Linked DNA regions of Homo sapiens: region 2 is linked to region 1. Evidence: fine-mapped expression QTL. A gene starts in region 1. The other region holds a variant in brackets. All regions are shown on one strand. Distances are from middle to middle. Region 1 holds the start of LINC00221 (long intergenic non-protein coding RNA 221). Region 2 has its middle 56 kb from the start of LINC00221.

What was found. PIP is the estimated chance that this variant, and not a neighbour inherited with it, causes the effect. A credible set is the group of variants that fine-mapping cannot tell apart.
Region 2: its variant is the best candidate, but not a certain one, in a credible set for the expression of LINC00221 in whole blood (TOPMed, PIP 0.70).

The regions. Positions count from the first base shown.
Region 1 is chr14:106,480,191-106,485,569 of GRCh38, reverse strand. LINC00221 (long intergenic non-protein coding RNA 221) reads right to left here and starts at 3,131. Exons shown (of 3, transcript NR_027457.2): 1 at 2,933-3,131. It also overlaps IGH.
Region 2 is chr14:106,535,748-106,541,126 of GRCh38, reverse strand. It overlaps IGH and IGHV3-48. Among named protein-coding and RNA genes, the nearest start is that of LINC00221, 56 kb to the right of the region's middle. The variant T/C (reference allele first, on the strand shown) is at 2,401.

The DNA.
Region 1 (5,379 bases):
CAAGCATTAGATACCCATATTTCTGCTAGAGATGGATGCCCTCTCTCAGAACCCCATGACAGCATGGTTTAGTTGACTTCCTAACACATGGAAGAGTTTCATATATAGTAGAGCTGGTATTCTGTTCATTGCTATCTTCAATTGCTATGGATTTTATTGCTATCTTGCACTTTAAGTGAGAATGTAATACTGACCTTCTCAAAAACTCCTAGGTCCTTGCACCATAATGCTCCAACAAACACCTACTGTAATTCCGGAGACTCCAGAATATTTCCAACTCCAGTTTAATGGATTCCCTTCCAATACATACAACCTATGCCCTTTCTAAAGAAGTAGCCAGAATGACTATGACACATGTTTTCCATAGAAACGAAATGGAATTTGACAGTGGGGAATGATATACAGGCAGCTTAATTTCAAAATGCATTTTAAACTTAGTATTTGAGGTTTTAATATTATTTTTTATACTCCCTGAAACCTGAAATTTCACACTTACATTTTAATTCAGACTTAATAGCAACAAATAACCAGAACACATGAATTGCCTGTAATCTCTATACCTTGCATTGTAAGCCACATTTCAAGTGTAACCTTACTTGTCAGCACAGTATGTTTACCACAGGCATAATTGCTTGTCCTGACTGTCCAGAAGGCAGGGTGGTATTAAGTATGCGGCCTCTGGAGCTGGGAAGTCTGGCTTTGTATACCGTCTCTGCCACTGCTAACTGGAGGACAATGGGCCAGTTACTTCCTGTACCCCAGTTTTCTCATATGTAAAGTAGGGTTGTTGTAAGAATGAAATTAGTTAATATTTAGTACCTAACAACTAATAGGCATTACATGGTAGCTATTGGTATTGCTATCGTCAGAGAACACACAGGAGTCCATTGTTATTTTTACCCTCCCCCTCCAAACAAAATGTGTAAGACACTAGACATGGTAGCTCTGTAACGGGGTTCGTCATGTATTAAACTGTGTACCCAAATGATATGTCAAAGTCCTGACAACCAGCACTTCAGAACACGTCCTTATTTGGAAATATGGTAGCTGGAGATGTTATTAGTGAAGATGAGGTCTTACTTGAGCAGGGCAGGCCCTCAATGTGGGAAGATGGGTGTCTTTCTAAGTACAAGGAAATTTGGACACAGAGACAGAGACATACAGTGTGCCATATGACAGCAGAGGCAAAGATCAGAGTGGTGCAGCAGTAAACCAATGCATGTCCGGGATTACCAGTCACCTCCACAAGTGAGGAAAGGGCAAGGAAGAATTCTCCTGAGTCTCAGAGGGAGTGCAGCCCAGCTCACACTTGATTTTGGACTTCTAGTCTCTAGAACTGTGAGAGAATACAGTCCTGTCATTTTTAAGCCACCCAGTTTGTAGTATTTCATTTTGGCAGCCCTAGGATATTCATACAGAATTCTTCACCCAAAAGGAAGCACTCTTTCACACAAACAGTCAAAGTCCTGGATGACAGACAACCTGGAGACTGCAAACCTCCAAGGAATCAAAGGAAGTTCTATAAATTCTAGGGGCCCCATCTTTCAAAGGCTGCTCCTCAAGTCCACACCCACACTTTGGAAGGAGAATCCTGCTCTTGGACATGGGATCCTTAGTGAGCCAACTGCCAATAATCCAACATCGTCATGAATTAAAGATCTCTGACATTTCCTCTTCACCAAGGGGAATTCTGTCAAGTAGTAAGTAAAACCCTTCTTCAGTAATCTCCACACCAAACAGTTCTGCATGGCTTGGGACGCCTCAGGAAACTTATAATCATGGCAGAAGAAAAAGGGGAAGCAAGGCAGTCATACATGGTGGCAGAAGAGAGGTTAAACTTTTCTGTCTCTCTTGGGTGTAAAGATATAATCTTGAGGCAAACAGCAGAATCAATTTTCTTACGCCTTGAAATAGACTCCACCTTTCTCCCTTTCACCATAAATATTCCCTTCACATTAATCTAACTTTATGTTTGCATCGAACTATGTGCCTTTTTGGAAGTTCCGGAAGCTAATTTGAGACAGATAGACAAAGTCGGGAGACCCTGATGCAGAATTCCAGAGGTGACTTCAATGTTGCTAGTTAACAACCCAGGCATTGCCCAGATGATGCCAGCCCAAGATCTAGGTGGACTGGGATGCCAGAGAGCCGCCAGAACAAGACGCACAGACCTGGTTCTCAGCCCAAATCTTGCATGCCTTTCTTACCAACTTTTCCTTTTTTAAACCCCTGCCTTTCCTTCAAAATTCAAGTGGTTGCTTGGGATGGGAATGCGGTCACTTCCCCTTTACCATTATGGTTAATACAATAATCTTTGTACCAGATCTCTCTCTTGTTAATTGGATCCTGCAGGTGGCAGATTCCGGACCAGAGTGAGGTTAGAAACTGAATGCACATACTGGGTGGTTCACAGACACGGTGTTCTGTGAAGTTTATGGGTGGATTCCTGGGGAAGCCTGCAAGCCTGTTAGTGATTAGCAGAACCGCATCCAGCTACTGGGATCTGCACGCCAGGTGCCGTGAGCCCCTCACCATGTTCCCTGGTCCCAGCTGCCCGCGGATGGTTCAGCCTTGACAACGGGCTCGGTGTTCTGGGTGGTGGGAGAGCAAGGGGGCCCCTTGGGCAGCGTGCTACAGGGCTGTGAATCCAGGGGCCCACCCGGTGTTCCCTGTGGAGTCACTGAGGGAATGAGGGGCTTCTCAGGGCACAGAGCTGTGCCGCCTTTGTGCAGTGGTGGCTGAATACAGTGACACTGGGCGCGTGGTGAGAAGCGGGGCAAGGTCAGTTCACTGGACCCTCCGCCCTGAGCCTCAGATGAGTCGGGGGTCCCCAGACAGGCCCGGCCTCTGCCCTGCGGCGGACACTGGAGCCTTTGCTGTGGCTGCCACCGAGGAGCCTTGACCTCAAAGCAGCGGGAACCTCTCTACCCACCTCGGAAACCTGAAGGCAGCGGCGGCCTCTCCCAGCCAGGACCTCGCCGGCATCCGGGTCTCCAGGCCCAACCCTGTACCACATAAAGGAAGTCCCCGCTGAGCTACCGGCGGGACACAGCGCCGTTGGGTGGGCGGGCGCGGCGGGGCGGGAAGCACGGAGCAGCTGCCACAGAGATGCGCGGGGGCTGTCGGGAAGTGGGCGGTCCGGGAGGCGCGGGGCTGATGGGACGTGGGCGGTCCGGGGACGCGCGGGGGATGGCGGGACGTCGGCGATCGGAGATGCCAGGGGGCAGCTGGGACGTGGGCGGTCTGGAGAGGCGCGGGGGCAGCTGAGATGCAGGTGGTCCGGGACGCGCGGGGGCTGGCGGGTTGTGGGCGGTCCAGGGATGCGAGGGGGCAGCTGGGACGTGGGAGTTCCGGGGACGCGTGGGGTCGCCAGGAAGCGGGGTCTAGGACTTAGATCCGCTTTCTCTTCAGGCCATGCAGCCCCGAAGCTCCGAATCCTGGGATGACTCCTGTCCATGTTGGAAGGGACCCTGCCAGTCCTGGCAAGGTTCAAAGGCCTTAGGGCAAGAAATGTTAGTAGAGTCCTGGAAGACGATGTGGGGAACGGGTAGCGGCCACCGGATGGTGATCGTTCTTCTACAAGACCTTGACATGGATGGGGAGAAACAGAGAAGAACCTTCCAAGTTTGTCCCACTGGACATGCCCACCACACTTTACCAGCCCTTTCTAGAAGGCCTGTGCGTAACACATGAAAAAGCTCCGCTCGACCTTTCCCTGACCTTTTAAAAGAAAACATTTGCTGCATCTAATCCGCCTAGATATAAGGAGGTTCCCAAATGTATGACAGAGTCAGAAAATTACATGTCTTGTAAGTTACCATGTGCTTGTCTTTTGTTTTCCGTTTTTTTTCGTTTTTTTGTTTTTTGTTTTTGAGACGGAGTCTCACTCTGTCGCCCAGGCTGGAGTGCAGTGGCAGGATCTTGGCTCACTGCAACCTCTGCTTCCTGAGTTTCAACAATTGTGCTGCCTCAGCCTCCCGAGTAGCTTGGATTACAAGTGTGCACCACCACGCCTGGCTAATTTTTGTAGTTTTTAGTAGAGATGGGGTTTTGCCACGTTGGCCAGGCTGGTCTTGAACTCCTGACCTCAGGTGAGCCACCCACCTTGGCCTCTCAAAGTGCTGGGATTACAGGTGTGAGCCACCGTGCCTGGCCGTAAGTTACCATGTGCTTTTTAAAAAAATCATAGCAAAGGGGTGTCTTCTGGAAATGACATTTTGAAATGGTGTTATTAGACCACCCCTGGAAGGGACACAGTAACCACACGTCCACGTTCGTTCAGTGGGTGAGAGGACATGGAGGGGAGACCTGGGCAGGAAGGGAAGAGGGTTCCATGCCAGGCTGCTCATATTTAGAAGACATTTTCATATCATTGTCATTGTTTTCTTGTGTGCGTTTTATTCCTCGCTATTGTATACATCATTGGAAATTCTAAGTATTCTTTTGAAATATCTAGTCTTTCTAGATGTTCTGAAGTGCCTGATGTATGTTAAAATTACAGGTGGTAAAATAATAAATTTTGTAAATATCTTTTTGTTAAAATTCATATGCAGTGTTTTATTTTATTTTGATGTTGGTGGGGGGTGGGGAGGATGGCCAAATCCCTGCTTGATCAACACACATTGCGTTTGTGCTCTGGTTCAGGGGAGGAGAGAGGAGGAGAAAGTGCAGACTTCCAGGCCTCTGTGCGCACCGGGAGGAGAGATTAATGATCATCTCTTCTGTCTGTGTGTTTGTTTTATTTATCTATGGATATCCTGTGTATAAAGGATGAACAAGTCCTATTTATAACATCTAATCTTTTCAGGTGTTAAGTTGCCAGTGTATGACGGAAGCAGCGTTATTAAACGAACGCAGCTTGTACATATTGTGTTAAAATTCATAAAAAGCCAGTCTTCTGAAAAGAACCCTTGGGCCCTCCCTCCGCAGCCTCCGGCGCCAGCTGCAGGAAGACCTGGCCAGGGGAAGGCGGGCGGCACAAGCTGCTGCTGGCTGTGGGGAAGGCGGTGGAGCCCAGGCCTCCACAGGCTCCCCACAGGCTCCCCACAGGCTCGCGCGGCTCTGGTCGCTGGGCTCCGCACGGGCCGCGTGGGGGCGCCTGCTGGGAGCGAGGAGGCGCCATCCTGGCTCGCCTGCTCCAGGAGGACGCTCTGGGCCTGCGCAGATGCAGTTCTCCAGGATGGGCGCGGGCGCTGGGGGCCGCGCTCCTTGGGCTGCTGCGCCTCCACTGAGCCGCCTGGGTGTGAGGACCTCGCGCCGGCGCCTCCGGGAAGGACGCGGAGCCGCCGCGGCCGAGCCCAGGGCTGCAGCTGCTGCCCGACGCCCGCGAGAAGGCCCTTCCGCCACCGCCCGCGGGTTCGAACTTGGAGCAGCTGCTGC
Region 2 (5,379 bases), 56 kb before region 1:
ACTTTTTCTCTCCTAGACAGACACAATGGGACAGAACAATTTTGGTGACTGTCCCCATTTTGGGGAAAAAGGATTCAATAGGATAGGAAAACTCTTCAGTCTGTGGTCCCTAAGAAATTCACCCTACAACACATTTACCACACTTGACTTCAAGCAATCCAATATATATGTGTGTTTTCATCTTGTAATAGCCTACATTTTACATGCCATACTCTGCCTCAGTTCAGCTCATACCCCAGCTTTGTTACTCTTTACAAGAACTTGCCTCTCCCTAGATTTCACATTTGCTGTTTATCTTAAAACTTCAAGTATCTAAAGTATTATTTTTAAAAAATGGCCAGTTGTGGTGGCTCACACCTGTAATCCCAACGCTTTGGGAGGCTGAGGTATGTGGATCACCTGAGGTCAGGAGTTTGAGACCACCCTGGCCAACATGGTAAAACCTGTCTCTACTAAAAATACAAAAAAAAAATAGCTTGGCATGGTGGCAGGCACCTGTAATCCCAGCTACTTGGGAGGCTGATACTGGAGAATAGCTTGAACCCAGGAGGCAGAGTTTGCAAGTCGTACCATTGCACTCCAGCCTGGGCGACAGAGTGAGACTCTGTCTCAAAAAAAAAAATTCCAAAATTCCAGCTCCTCTGTTTATCTATTTTTGTTGATACTGTTGTTGTAAAACATAAGTAAAATATATTATTCATCTATGTACATTTCCAAGCTGTGTAGAAGAATTTTTAATAAGACCCAGAGTAAAAAAAGAATGCAAATATGTAGGGGCCAGCCCTACAGGGTCTGTGGATCTTTCTCCCCATGTGCAGAGATGAGAGATCGTAGAAATAAAGGCACAAGACAAAGAGATAGAAGAAAAAACAGCCGGACCCAGGGGACCACTACCACCAAGACACAGACTAGAAGTGGCCCCGAATGCCTGGCTCCGCTGTTATTTATTGGATACAAGGCAAAAGGGGAAGGGTAAGGAGTGTGAGTCATCTGCAATGATTGATAAGGTCATGTGGGTCACGTGTCCACCAGACAGAGGGCACTTCCCTGTTTGGCAGCCGAGGCGGAGAGAGAGAGAGGACAGCTTAGGTCATTATTTATTCCATTCTCTTCTCAGAAAGATCAAAGACTTTAATACTTTCACTAATTCTGCTACTGCTATCTAGAGGGCGGAGCCAGGTGTACAGAGTGGAACATGAAAGTGAAACAGGAGTGTGACCGCTGAAGCACAGCATCACAGAGAGACGTTTAGGCCTCTGGAGGGCTGCGGGCAGGTTTGACTGATGTCAGGCCTTCCACAAGAGGTGGTGGAGCAGAGTCTTCTCTAACTCCCCCGGGGAAAGGGAGACTCCCTTTCCAGGTCTTCTAAGTAATGGGTAATGGGTGCCTTCCCAGGCACTGGCGCTACCGCTAGACCGAGGAGCCCTCTAGTGGCCCTGTCCGGGCGTGACAGAGGCTCACACTCCTGTCTTCTGGTCACTTCTCACTGTGTCCCTTCAGCTCCTATTGCTGTATGGCCTGGTTTTTCCTAGGTTATAATTGTAGAGCAAGGATTATTATAATGTTGGAATAAAGAGTAATGCTACAGACTGATGATTAATGATATTCATATATAATCATATCTATAACCTATTTCTAGTACAACTATTCTTATTTTACATATTCTCTTCATTACACTGGAACAGCTTGTGCCCTCAGTCTCTTGCCTCAGCACCTGGGTGGCTTGCCGCCCAGACAAATATTGTTAAGCTTCTTAATAGAAAAACAAATTATGGTAAATGTGTTCACTGGAATACTACCCGTCATTTATAATAAATTAATGCCTGATACACAGAGCAACAAGGTAAAATATCTAAGTATTTATGTTGAGTAAAATAAGCTAAACAAATAAGAATATATACTATGTAATTTCATTTTTATAAATTCTGATAAATAAAAATGCATCTGAAGTAAAATAATGAAGATAAGTAGTTGCCTGGGGTAATGGTAGAAGAAGGGAGGGGGAGAGGAGGAGGAATACAGCAGAACAAGGGGAAATGTTGAGAAGAATTCACTTGTCCACTTTCTTGGTAATGATAGCAGTTACATCATTTTTATTAGTTGTACATTTTAAATATGTGAAGTTTATTATCTTTCAATTAAGCCTCATAAAATGTCTTACAAGCAAACAAATGGAAACTTAGACAAGGAAAGAGTAATAGAAAGACAGAAAAAATAAGTTCAATGTCAGAAGTACCTGAAAATTAATGTGCCTGGATCCTAGTTCTCTCCATATTTTCAGAAGAGTGCTGGAGGGCAGCAAAACCACACATGCTCTTATTACGGAATGTGGGTTCTGATAAAAACACTAGACACATCCAGCTTTGTCCTGGAGTTGGTTTAGGGGGATGTCAGAGACAG[T/C]GATGAAGAGCACAGGGCCAGATACCGGGGTTCACTCATCCCAGACATGAGCTCCGAGACGCATACAGAGCCCCCCCATGTGTGGGTTTACTTCCACTTCTGTAAATGGAGAAAATATTGTCTCCTACAGAACATAGTTTACATGAATATTTAAAATGAAATAGGGTGATTAGTGCAAAGTGTTTATCACAGCACAATTTCATAATAAGACAGCATATTTTCCAAATGCAATCATTGCCAGCAAACTTCTACAGGGCACCGTCGTCTTATCTGGGTACAGCCTACTCCTCAAGGGTCCCACCCTAGAGCTTGCTATATAGTAGGAGATATGCAAATAGGGCCCTCCCTCTACTGATGAAAACCAACCCAACCCTGACCCTGCAGCTCTCAGAGAGGTGCCTTAGCCCTGGATTCCAAGGCATTTCCACTTGGTGATCAGCACTGAACACAGAGGACTCACCATGGAGTTGGGGCTGTGCTGGGTTTTCCTTGTTGCTATTTTAGAAGGTGATTCATGGAAAACTAGAGAGATTTAGTGTGTGTGGATATGAGTGAGAGAAACAGTGGATATGTGTGGCAGTTTCTGACCTTGGTGTCTCTTTGTTTGCAGGTGTCCAGTGTGAGGTGCAGCTGGTGGAGTCTGGGGGAGGCTTGGTACAGCCTGGAGGGTCCCTGAGACTCTCCTGTGCAGCCTCTGGATTCACCTTCAGTAGTTATGAAATGAACTGGGTCCGCCAGGCTCCAGGGAAGGGGCTGGAGTGGGTTTCATACATTAGTAGTAGTGGTAGTACCATATACTACGCAGACTCTGTGAAGGGCCGATTCACCATCTCCAGAGACAACGCCAAGAACTCACTGTATCTGCAAATGAACAGCCTGAGAGCCGAGGACACGGCTGTTTATTACTGTGCGAGAGACACAGTGAGGGGAAGTCAGTGTGAGCCCAGACACAAACCTCCCTGCAGGGGTCCCTTGGGACCACCAGGGGGCGACAGCACACTGAGCACGGGGCTGTCTCCAGGGCAGGTGCAGGTGCTGCTGAGGGCTGGCTTCCTGTGATGGCCTGGGGCGGCCTCATTGTCAAATTTCCCCGGGGAACTTCTCCAGATTTACAATCCTGTACTAATATTTGATGTCTCTAAATGCAACCTTTTTTTTCCTTTTTGTGTCTGTTTTTTTTTTTTAAAACAGGAGGACACATCCTCACCTCCACAGAAGCCACAGTGTCACTTTGGGGGCAGAAATAATCCTTTCGTGGTCAACAGGGTGAGAGTTTTGAGGAATCCCAGGGAAACCTGGGGAATGTTTTCCAATTAGACTCAGGGCAGAGACCTCCATGGGAATCTCTGATTAGAACAGGCTTTGAGTTCTGATGGGAGCCAAGAGAGAGGCTCACCCAGGGTCAGGGTTCTTAAAACCTGATGGTTTTCACAGCAATCCCCCTTCATCTTGTGAAACTGGGCACATCTGACTCAGACTGATTCAGTTGACCCTCTTTCTGCTAATCCATTTTCCTTCCCAGTAGACTTGATTCTCACAGATCCCTTTCTTCTTCTCTTTCCTGAAAACAGAGGATGTGTTTTCTGTAGTCTAAATTCCAAGGCTCAGGTCCGCAGGAGCTGGGTAGGCTGAGGGGTCTTCCTCACTCACTATTGCCTGGAAAATCCTGCTGTCTTCTGTGCATGGAGGCATTTGGAAAATGAAGCAGGCATTAGTCATGAAGGGAATAATACTAGTTTTCTCCAATGGGATGTTGATGTAGAGCTGATCTTATGCTTCTCACACTGTCACAAAGTTTGGACTCTCACCTGTGACTTTGAGGAGAGCTTGTGATACCTTATCTTGTTTTAATATGAATAGACTCTCCCTTAGCTCAGGAAGCTGGAACAGACTCCATTTGGCTCCTTCATTTGTAAGACATCAAGGGCTCCTCACCCACCCCCTTCCTCAAGGACTTAACTTGTTTAAGCTGACTCCCAGCATCTCAAAGAGTGCGATTAACTGATAAGGTACTGTGGCAAGCTGTGTCCGCAGTTCCCAGGAATTTGGCCAGGTGATGGTACCCTAAAGCCCCTGCATTTGTGTCTGGCAGATAACACCCAGAGCCCCCACACCTATCATCTTGTGATGAATTTAAAGCCCCTGCACCTGGAACTGTTTGCCTGTAACCATTTGTCCTTTCAACTTTTTTGCCTGTTTTACTCCTGTTAGAATGCTACAGTTAGGCTCCCCCTCCCCTCTCTAAACCAAAGTATAAAAGAAAATCTAGCACCTTCTTCGGGGCTGAGAGAATTTCCAGCGTTAGCCATCTCTCAGTTGCCAGCTAATAAAGGACTCCTGAATTCATCTCAAAGTGCGGCGTTTCTCTCTAACTCGCTCGGTTACAACAAGCTGAGGATGGACACTCCATTGTGCAGTGAGCTCTGGGTGACAGTAATCGTAGGGTCTCCCCGGGCAGCCTAAGGTCAATACTGCTGGCCGTCGGGAAAGACAGGCTGGAATTCCTGGGAAGACCTGCATCTGCCATCTACCACGGAGTCCTATGGTCTTCTGTTACACTCTCTTTGAATCAGCACCACCTAGATTATCTAAAACACTCTTTGTGACTTCATGACTGGGAAAAAATAATGGCAGTCTCTACTAACACCTGTGTTAAGCCATGGGAGCAACACCTAGGCTAGTGTGTGATTGAGTAGTTGAGACTGTGGTCTAGTCAAGGTGACACATAAAATTGATTGTTGCCATTATGATATTTTATTTTATATTTGACAATATAATCATGCTCATATTATAAATATTTCTGTTACATTATTTGTGTCAGAGGCTTTGGAACCAGAACAACTTCATCTTGAATAAGGGGTAGGAAAAATAAGACTGAGACCTGCTGGGCTACATTCCCAGTAAGCTAAGGCGTTCTTAGTCACAGGATGAGATAGGAGGTCTGCACAAGATCCAGGTCATAAAGACCTTGCTAATAAA